Linked DNA regions of Homo sapiens. The protein of the gene in region 1 purifies or fractionates together with the protein of each later gene. This does not show direct contact. Each region holds a gene or a part of one and is shown in the gene's direction. Other genes may lie near its edges. The genes, in order: CRTC3 and KIAA1549.

Evidence for each region.
Region 2: the proteins of CRTC3 (region 1) and KIAA1549 purify together in Homo sapiens (affinity purification with mass spectrometry; one large-scale study listed by BioGRID and IntAct). This does not show direct contact.

The regions. Positions count from the first base shown.
Region 1 is NC_000015.10:90,637,620-90,641,435, forward strand, and holds part of CRTC3 (CREB-regulated transcription coactivator 3), read left to right. Parts: intron 1-826; coding exon 827-1,027; intron 1,028-1,115; coding exon 1,116-1,196; intron 1,197-3,422; exon of another isoform or gene 3,423-3,477; coding exon 3,478-3,580; exon of another isoform or gene 3,581-3,638; intron 3,639-3,816. UniProt on the Homo sapiens protein: Transcriptional coactivator for CREB1 which activates transcription through both consensus and variant cAMP response element (CRE) sites.
Region 2 is NC_000007.14:138,974,628-138,978,443, reverse strand, and holds part of KIAA1549 (UPF0606 protein KIAA1549), read left to right. Parts: intron 1-3,816. UniProt on the Homo sapiens protein: May play a role in photoreceptor function.

The DNA.
Region 1 (3,816 bases):
TCCAGAGACCCTTAGTTTTATTATCTCGAAAGTAGAACCTTCCAGTCTCCTGGCAGGTGGCAGGATGGTGGGGGCCAGTGCGCAGAAGCACACTCAAGGCAAGGGCTCTGCAGGTCCAACTGCCCCTTACACAAACTGTGACCAGAATCTCCTGGTTTTAGCTTCACCGCCTGCTCCCTGCTGTCCCCAGTCCCAGAGCCCTGTGGGGACTGAGTGCTGTCAGTGAGATTGCCTCCTGGTTTTTCCTCACTGCCAGCCTAGCATCGGGTTTTCTCAGCTCTGCTAAGCCAGCTGCCACCGGGCCATCTGCTGCTCATTTTCCAGCTTTTGTTGCCATTTTCTTCTCTCCCGTTATCTTTGTCCTCGTGTTGTTTGTTATCATTTAGTGTTCTGTGCTGTTGTTTAGTGTTTTTTATTAATGCTTATTGCTTGTTAATGTTGTAGTGTCTTGTTTTAACAGGATTTGGGGATGACAGAGCTAAGGGCCTTTTTCAATTTTCCACTTTTAACCAGAAGACACGGCTATAAAACAAAACAAAACATGATTTTCACGGAGAAAACTGAAAGGAAATTGGTTAAATTGGCTGTTTTCTTGTTTAGTTCTTTTAAGACAATAGAACTTGTCATTGAATGGAACATGCTTTGTGGGGAAGTAAAATTTGAGATATACTTTGAAGGATGAGAAACGGGCTTCTCACAGCATTGCACAGAACACCGCGGTGAGGAAAATCTCAGGCTTCCTCTCACTCTGACATTTCCTAATCCTAAAGGACTTAACGCCAGAAACGCAGAAGCTCATTAGTGGCTTTGTGTGTTTGTTTTGCAGATGGTGTCCTCAGACCGAAGCCAACTTTCCTTTCTGCCCACAGAAGCTCAAGCCCAGGTGTCGCCGCCACCCCCTTACCCTGCACCCCAGGAGCTCACCCAGCCCCTCCTGCAGCAGCCCCGCGCCCCTGAGGCCCCTGCCCAGCAGCCCCAGGCAGCCTCCTCACTGCCACAGTCAGACTTTCAGCTTCTCCCGGCCCAGGTGAGTTCTGGCAGGAGCGTTGGTGCAGAGGGAATGCTTGTTTTGCTCTGAGTTCCAAGCTAAATGATCATCTCCTTATTCCCTGAAGGGCTCATCTTTGACCAACTTCTTCCCAGATGTGGGTTTTGACCAGCAGTCCATGAGGCCAGGCCCTGCCTTTCCTCAACAGGTGGGTGATCGCCCCTGCCTTCTCCTCCCTTGGTGCATAAACTGTACCATTTAGGTTGTTCATTCTGTAGAATTCAGAACTGAGCAGACCAGACATGCCACTTTCCTGGTTCTGGTTGTGTTCTGTGGCTAGAAGAGCCTTTCATCTTCTTTGGCCCTAAAATGCTTTCTCTGGCTGCCTTATTTAGTATCAGGCTTCAGCAGAGGAACTATTGGAACAATCGGCAGGAGACTTTTGATGACACTCTCGTTGTAGAACTGTAAAATCATGAACACTGGAAGGGACACAGCACCTGCCTCCTCAGCGCCCTCATGTTGAAACTGAGGCATAGGGAGAGTGGCGCCTGCTCCCACCGCAGAGTCAGAAGGTGGCGCCGCATTTGGCCTGCACCCAGGCTGGTGCACCCAGCACAGCGTGGGGCCTCCTGGGGAGAGCTCAGTCCTGGGGAGTGAGGGGAGTGCGTTCCGTAAGGTATTTTCAACTCGGCCACTTTCTTTTACAGTTTAGTTTTTTCCTAACATTGACTATTTTTAATATTCTAGATTTTATAGTATTCAATAGTATTCAATAAGTATGGACTGGGCCCTCCGATGGATTAAGGAGTGGAAGAAGGGTTGAACAGGTTCCAGAACTTTTTTTTTTTTTTTTTTTTGAGACAGAATCTTAATCTGTCGCCTAGGCTGGAGTGCAGTGGCGTGATCTCGGCTTACTGCAACCTCCACCTCCTGGGTTCAAGTGATTCTCATGTCTCAGACTCCTGAGTAATTGGGGTTACAGGCATGTACCCCTACACCTGGCTAAATTTTATATTTTTAGTAGAGATGGGGTTTCACTTTGTTGACCAGGCTAATCTTGAACTCCGGACCTCAAGTGATCCACCCGCCTTGGCCTCCCAAAGTGCTGGGATTACAGGTGCGAGCCACTGTGCCCAGCCAAGAACTTAATAAAATAGCTGGGCATAGTGGCTCACGCCTGTAATCCCAGCAGTTTGGGAGGCCGAGGCGGGCGGATCATGAGGTCAGGAGATCGAGACCATCCTGGCTAACACGGTGAAACCTTGTCTCTACTAAAAAATACAAAAAAATTAGCTGGGCGTGGTGGCAGGCACCTGTAGTCCCAGCTACTCGGGAGGCTGAGGCAGGAGAATGGCGTGAAGCCGGGAGGCGGAGCTTGCAGTGAGCTGAGATCGCACCACTGCACTTCAGTCTGGACAACAAAGCAAGACTCTGTCTCAAAATAAGTAAATAAAATAATAATAATAAAATAAATTAAGATAGCTGTTTCCTAAGCAGGCCACAGATGAAGCTTTGTGGCAAGAACCAATCCTCCTTGCCTCCCTGTTTCCCAAAGAGCCATTTTAGTCTAGGTGGGAATCACCGTCTCCCTGAAAAATGATAGACACTTCTTTTGAGACTTTTTTTAAAATGGCTTAGAAAATTAATTTCAGGAAAGGAACCTAAAATTGGCACTGGTTATAACCAGTCCTCATAGAGGCTTTCTCATAGGGAGGAGCTTGCCTGAGTTTCCTCCTTCTGAGTGTGAAAAGGAAAGCCTTCCCCTTTCTCAGTTTTCTAGAAACCAGGGAAGAGGCCAGGTGCAGTGGCTCACACCCATAATCCCAGCACTTTGGGAGGCCAAGGCCAGTGGCTTACTTGAACTCAGGAGTTTGAGACCAGCCTGGGTAAAATACAGCAAGACCCTGTCTCTAAAAAAAATACAAAAATTAGCCAGGCATGGTGGCATGTGGTCCCAGCTATTTGGGAGGCTAAGGTGGACGGATTGCTTGAGCCTGGGAGCTGGAGGTTTCAGTGAGCCGAGATGGCGCCATTGCACTCCAGCCTGGGCAACAGAGACCCTATCTTTAAAAAAAAAAAGAAGAAAGAAACCAAGGAAGAAGAGTCCATACTTCCTTGGTTATAGACAGAGCCTTTGAAGGGTTCCCACAGAAGGCAGTTTGCAAAGGCCTTGGTGAGGCTGAGGACAGATGTCTGAGGGGCCACAGAAACCATGAGCATTGGTGTCTCTTGGGATGGTGTAGTGGGCTGGGGAAAAGTCACCACGCTGTGGACCTCAGGGACCCCTCCTCCACCCCAGCGTCTGCCTGCCTGACAAGAATATTGTGCATGCATTACCATAAGAGCAAAGCACTCTGGGATCCTGGAAAGAAGGGAATATGGATTAGTTTGCAAGTCAGGTTTTGCTCTGGGAGCACATTGCAATACTCACTTCCTCCTTGGAAACAGAGGTGTGGCCTTCCTCACATGACCTTCGATGCTTCCAGGTGCCTCTGGTGCAACAAGGTTCCCGAGAACTGCAGGACTCTTTTCATTTGAGACCAAGCCCGTATTCCAACTGCGGGAGTCTCCCGAACACCATCCTGCCAGGTGAGCGAGCTATCCCTCAGCTTCTTTACTGCTTTTATGTTGTTGTGTGTTCAGGAACCTTCATAAGAGAGTTTAAACAACATAATATTATATAAAGCAAAAAGTTAACGTTCCCTGGGTCGACTTGACTTTTTGAGATGCAGGTGTCCAGCCTCAGAGACCGTGACACAGGGCGGTGGGCCTGGTAGTCAAAGCCTTTTCTGAAAGATTTCATCTGGCCCAGTGCGGTGGCTCAC
Region 2 (3,816 bases), on another chromosome or scaffold:
ACAACTTGTAATGCTTTGGACTTACTTTTGAATGCATTGCTCTTAAGTGATTAGCCATCCACAGTATAAAAACAAAGAATCATGCCCAGTTTCTTCACCTTATTCAGAGATAAGTTTTTAAAAAGTAATAGTTATTATGAAATAGATTGCTTTGTAGGGAATTTGGAAATTACTGAAAGGTACAGAAACCAGTCACCCATAATCTCACAGCCTGTAGGTAACACTAAGTAATTTTATCGTTTTTTTGTTGTTAACATTAAAAAAAGAATTATATGCACAATTGTATTTACTACCATTTCCACTCTACATTTAACTTAAGCATTTTTCCATTCATTAAGTCTTATTTGAAAACTATTTTCTATCCTAATGATTTATTCTTTTATTTCCATTTTTTGGGTTGCTGTAAGTAATGCTGATGAATAGCTACATAGAGAAGGCTCTGCTGGCCATGCGCGCTGGCTCACGCCTGTAATCCCAGCACTTTGGGAAGCCGAGGTGGGCGGATCACCTGAGGTCAGGAGTTTGAGACCATCCTGGCCAACATGGTGAAACCCCGTCTCTACTAAAAATACAGAGATTAGCTGGGTGTGGTGGCATGTGCCTGTAATCCCAGCTACTTGGGAGGCTGAGGCAGGAGAATTGCTCGAACCAGGGAGGCAGAGGTTGCAGTGAGCCGAGATGGCGCCATTGTACTCCAGCCTGGACGACAGAGCAAGACTCCGTCTCAAAAAAAAAAGGCTTTGTGCATGTTTCTTTCCGTGTGTGTGTGTGTGTGTGTGTGTGTGTGTTTTCTTGAGTATACATTTGTGGAAGGGGTATTAGAGTGTGATTAAAATGTAAGGCCCACCAGGCTGGATTTCTGCATCTTTTGTTCAAAATGCTGGGCCCCTAGTAGGTACTCAGTATGTGATTTTTGAATGAAGCAATTTTTGAAAGTTATAATGCTGACATAAGCCCTTGAAGCTTACGCAGGGGCCTTCCATTATCACTTGCATTGAGTATTCACTTCATCACTGGCATTGAATGTTACTTTAAAAGCCCTTGTTAAATAAATTTGTAATACATTGTTTTAACCTGCACGGTTTTATTGCTTTAGAATTGAATATTTTTTATTTTGTATTTGTATTCTGTGAATTTTCTCTGTATTTTTATTTATTTACCTGTTGTGGCATAGATATGTATTTAAATCTTTATGTATTAGAAGGATAGCAACCATTTTTCCTTCTATATGTTGCGTTTTCCCCTTCCAAAGGAATTTCTTTTAAATTTTACATAATTTTGAAATGTAGAAGTTTTTGGTTGTTTTGATTAGCAAGATCTGCCATTTGTTCTTTTAATAATTTTTTTATTGCATTTATGCTTATGGTGTGTGAAATTTTTTTCTTAATGTGCTGTTTTATTATTGGCCATTTCTAGGTGAATATTTATGCTTTGTGAGTCGTTTAGGATATTATAAACAAATACTTAAATGTTTCAAAAGTGTGGCCCCTAGGCCTCCTGCATCAACATCATTTGGGGATGTGGGGGTGCTTGTTAAGAATTTAGATGTCTACGACTCACCCTTAGCCTCTAAATTAGACTCTTTGGTGGCAGTGCCTGGGAATCTTCATTTTAACAAGTTGACAGCTCCGTTTTAGCCCCTGAGCATTGGAACCACTGATCCGGATATGGTAAACCCAGTAACTGAAAATTAACAGTATTTTGAAGATATAGTAGTCCCTCCTTATCTGCAAGGGATGTGGTCCAAGACCCCCAGTGGATGCCTGAAACTTTGGGTAGTACTGAAGTCTGTATATACCATGGTTTTTTCCTATATGTACATACCTGCAATAAAGTTTAATTAAAAAATGAGGCACAGTAAGAGATTAACAATAATAACAAAACAGAACAGTTCTAACAGTCTACTGTAATAAAACGTGAATATGCTGTATCTCAAAATACCTCAGAATATCTCAAAATATCTTCAAACTGCAGTTGTCCTCCGGTATCCGAAACCTTGGAGGAGGGGGACTACTGTATACCATTGGTATCTTGCAGTTGTCTTTTCACTGTTAGAACAGCTAATTTAAAATCGTTATGTTGAGGCCGGGCGCGGTGACTCACGCCTGTAATCCCAACACTTTGGGATCACCTGAGGTCAGGAGTTGGAGACCAGCCTGGCCAACATGGTGAAACCCGGTCTCTACTAAAAATACAGAAATTAGCCGGGTGTGGTGGCAGGTGCCTGTAATCCCAGCTACTTGGGAGGGTGAGGCAGGAGAATTGCTTGAACCCGGGAGGCAGAGGTTGCAATGAAATGAGATCGCGCCACTGCACTCCAGCCTGGGTGACAGAGCAAGACTCCATCTCAAAATAAAATAAGATAAAATAAGATAAGGTAAAATAAAATAAGCATTTTTTGTTACATGTTTTTGCTTGGTTTTGTTTGGGTTGGGAGTGAAAGGGTGCAGAGGACTGCATTTTCAATGCTCACTCCTGCCCGTTTGGGAACAGCTGCTGCAGTGCTTGTCAGGAAGTGCCTCACTTAATTCTGAAAACAGAACCCAGCCAGGGAGTTGTTACAAGTCACTAGGGACGTGGGAGCCACAGGTTTTCTATCAGTGCCCTGAATGATAGAGGCAGCTAATTACCGTCATTATAATTACACTAGGTTGATTTTCCCAGATAGGAAGACACTGTTCTAACTGATCTAATTTGTTTTCAAGTTGTGACCACCCACCTTTCATCTGGAGCTCACAATGATGTGATTTCTTTTTCTTGTTGTTAGGCAGCAGGATTTGTTAAAAGGTGAGTTAAAAAACCTGGGTGTGTGCAAATGCAAATCTGCCTGTAACTTTGTGACTATGGACAAGTTACCTTGTCCTGGGTTTCCTCCTCGGTGTAAGAAAGGGTTAATGAGATTAGCGCTAATCTCATTAACCCTCTAGCTCCTTGTAGCTCATTTCTCCCTGTAGCTCCTACATATCAAGTCAACATCTTGGATGTCTTGGAATGCACTTATAAGCAGCATCTGTCCTTTTTCTGTTAGGTTGTTTTGTCATTTCTCCTTGCCTGGTAGATGTTCTAGGCCCATGACCTGCTGAAGGCAGCTCACTCTCACCATTGCAGATGGCTCTTCTTTTTAAAAACTCCCTTTATTCTTCCCTCTTGCATCCACACACTCAAGACCCATACTTTGCTTTCTCTTATTCTTTCTCTTTGTCTCTTTCTTTTTTCCATCTCCTTTGTTAGCTTCAGGCAATTACTTCTCATTAGTGAAATTCTAATCTTGTGGTCCCCACACTCTGAGCATCATCACTGCCTCTTAGCTCGCATCATCACTGCCTCCACTGCCTCGTAGCTTGTTAGAAAATGCAGAATCTCAGGGCCCACCCCCGACCTTCTGAATCAGAATCTGCATTTGACAAGATCCCCCTGGTGATTTTGCATGCACAATTGAGGTTTGGGAAGCACTGGGCTAAGAGGTAAAGTGCCTTCTGTTCTAGCCTTCTGGGAATAGGTATTGTTGGAACATTGAAGGCTAAGTCAGCCTGGACTAACTCTGGAGCTATGTAAATCTCCAGAGACCTTGAGAGACACCTGCTTTTGGGACTGAGTCTGTGTAAATAGTGTGCAAGAACCATATTTTATTTGACCAGGCAACTAGATTAGAATTGTCCCCTAGACCTGCTGTTTTCATTCATTGCGAGCATTTGACTGGTTGTAAAAACACTGAGATACAGTCTGGATGTGGTGGCTCACGCTTATAATCCCAGCACTTTGGGAGGCTGAGGCAGGTGGGTCACCTGAGGCCAGGAGTTCGAGACCAGCCTGGCC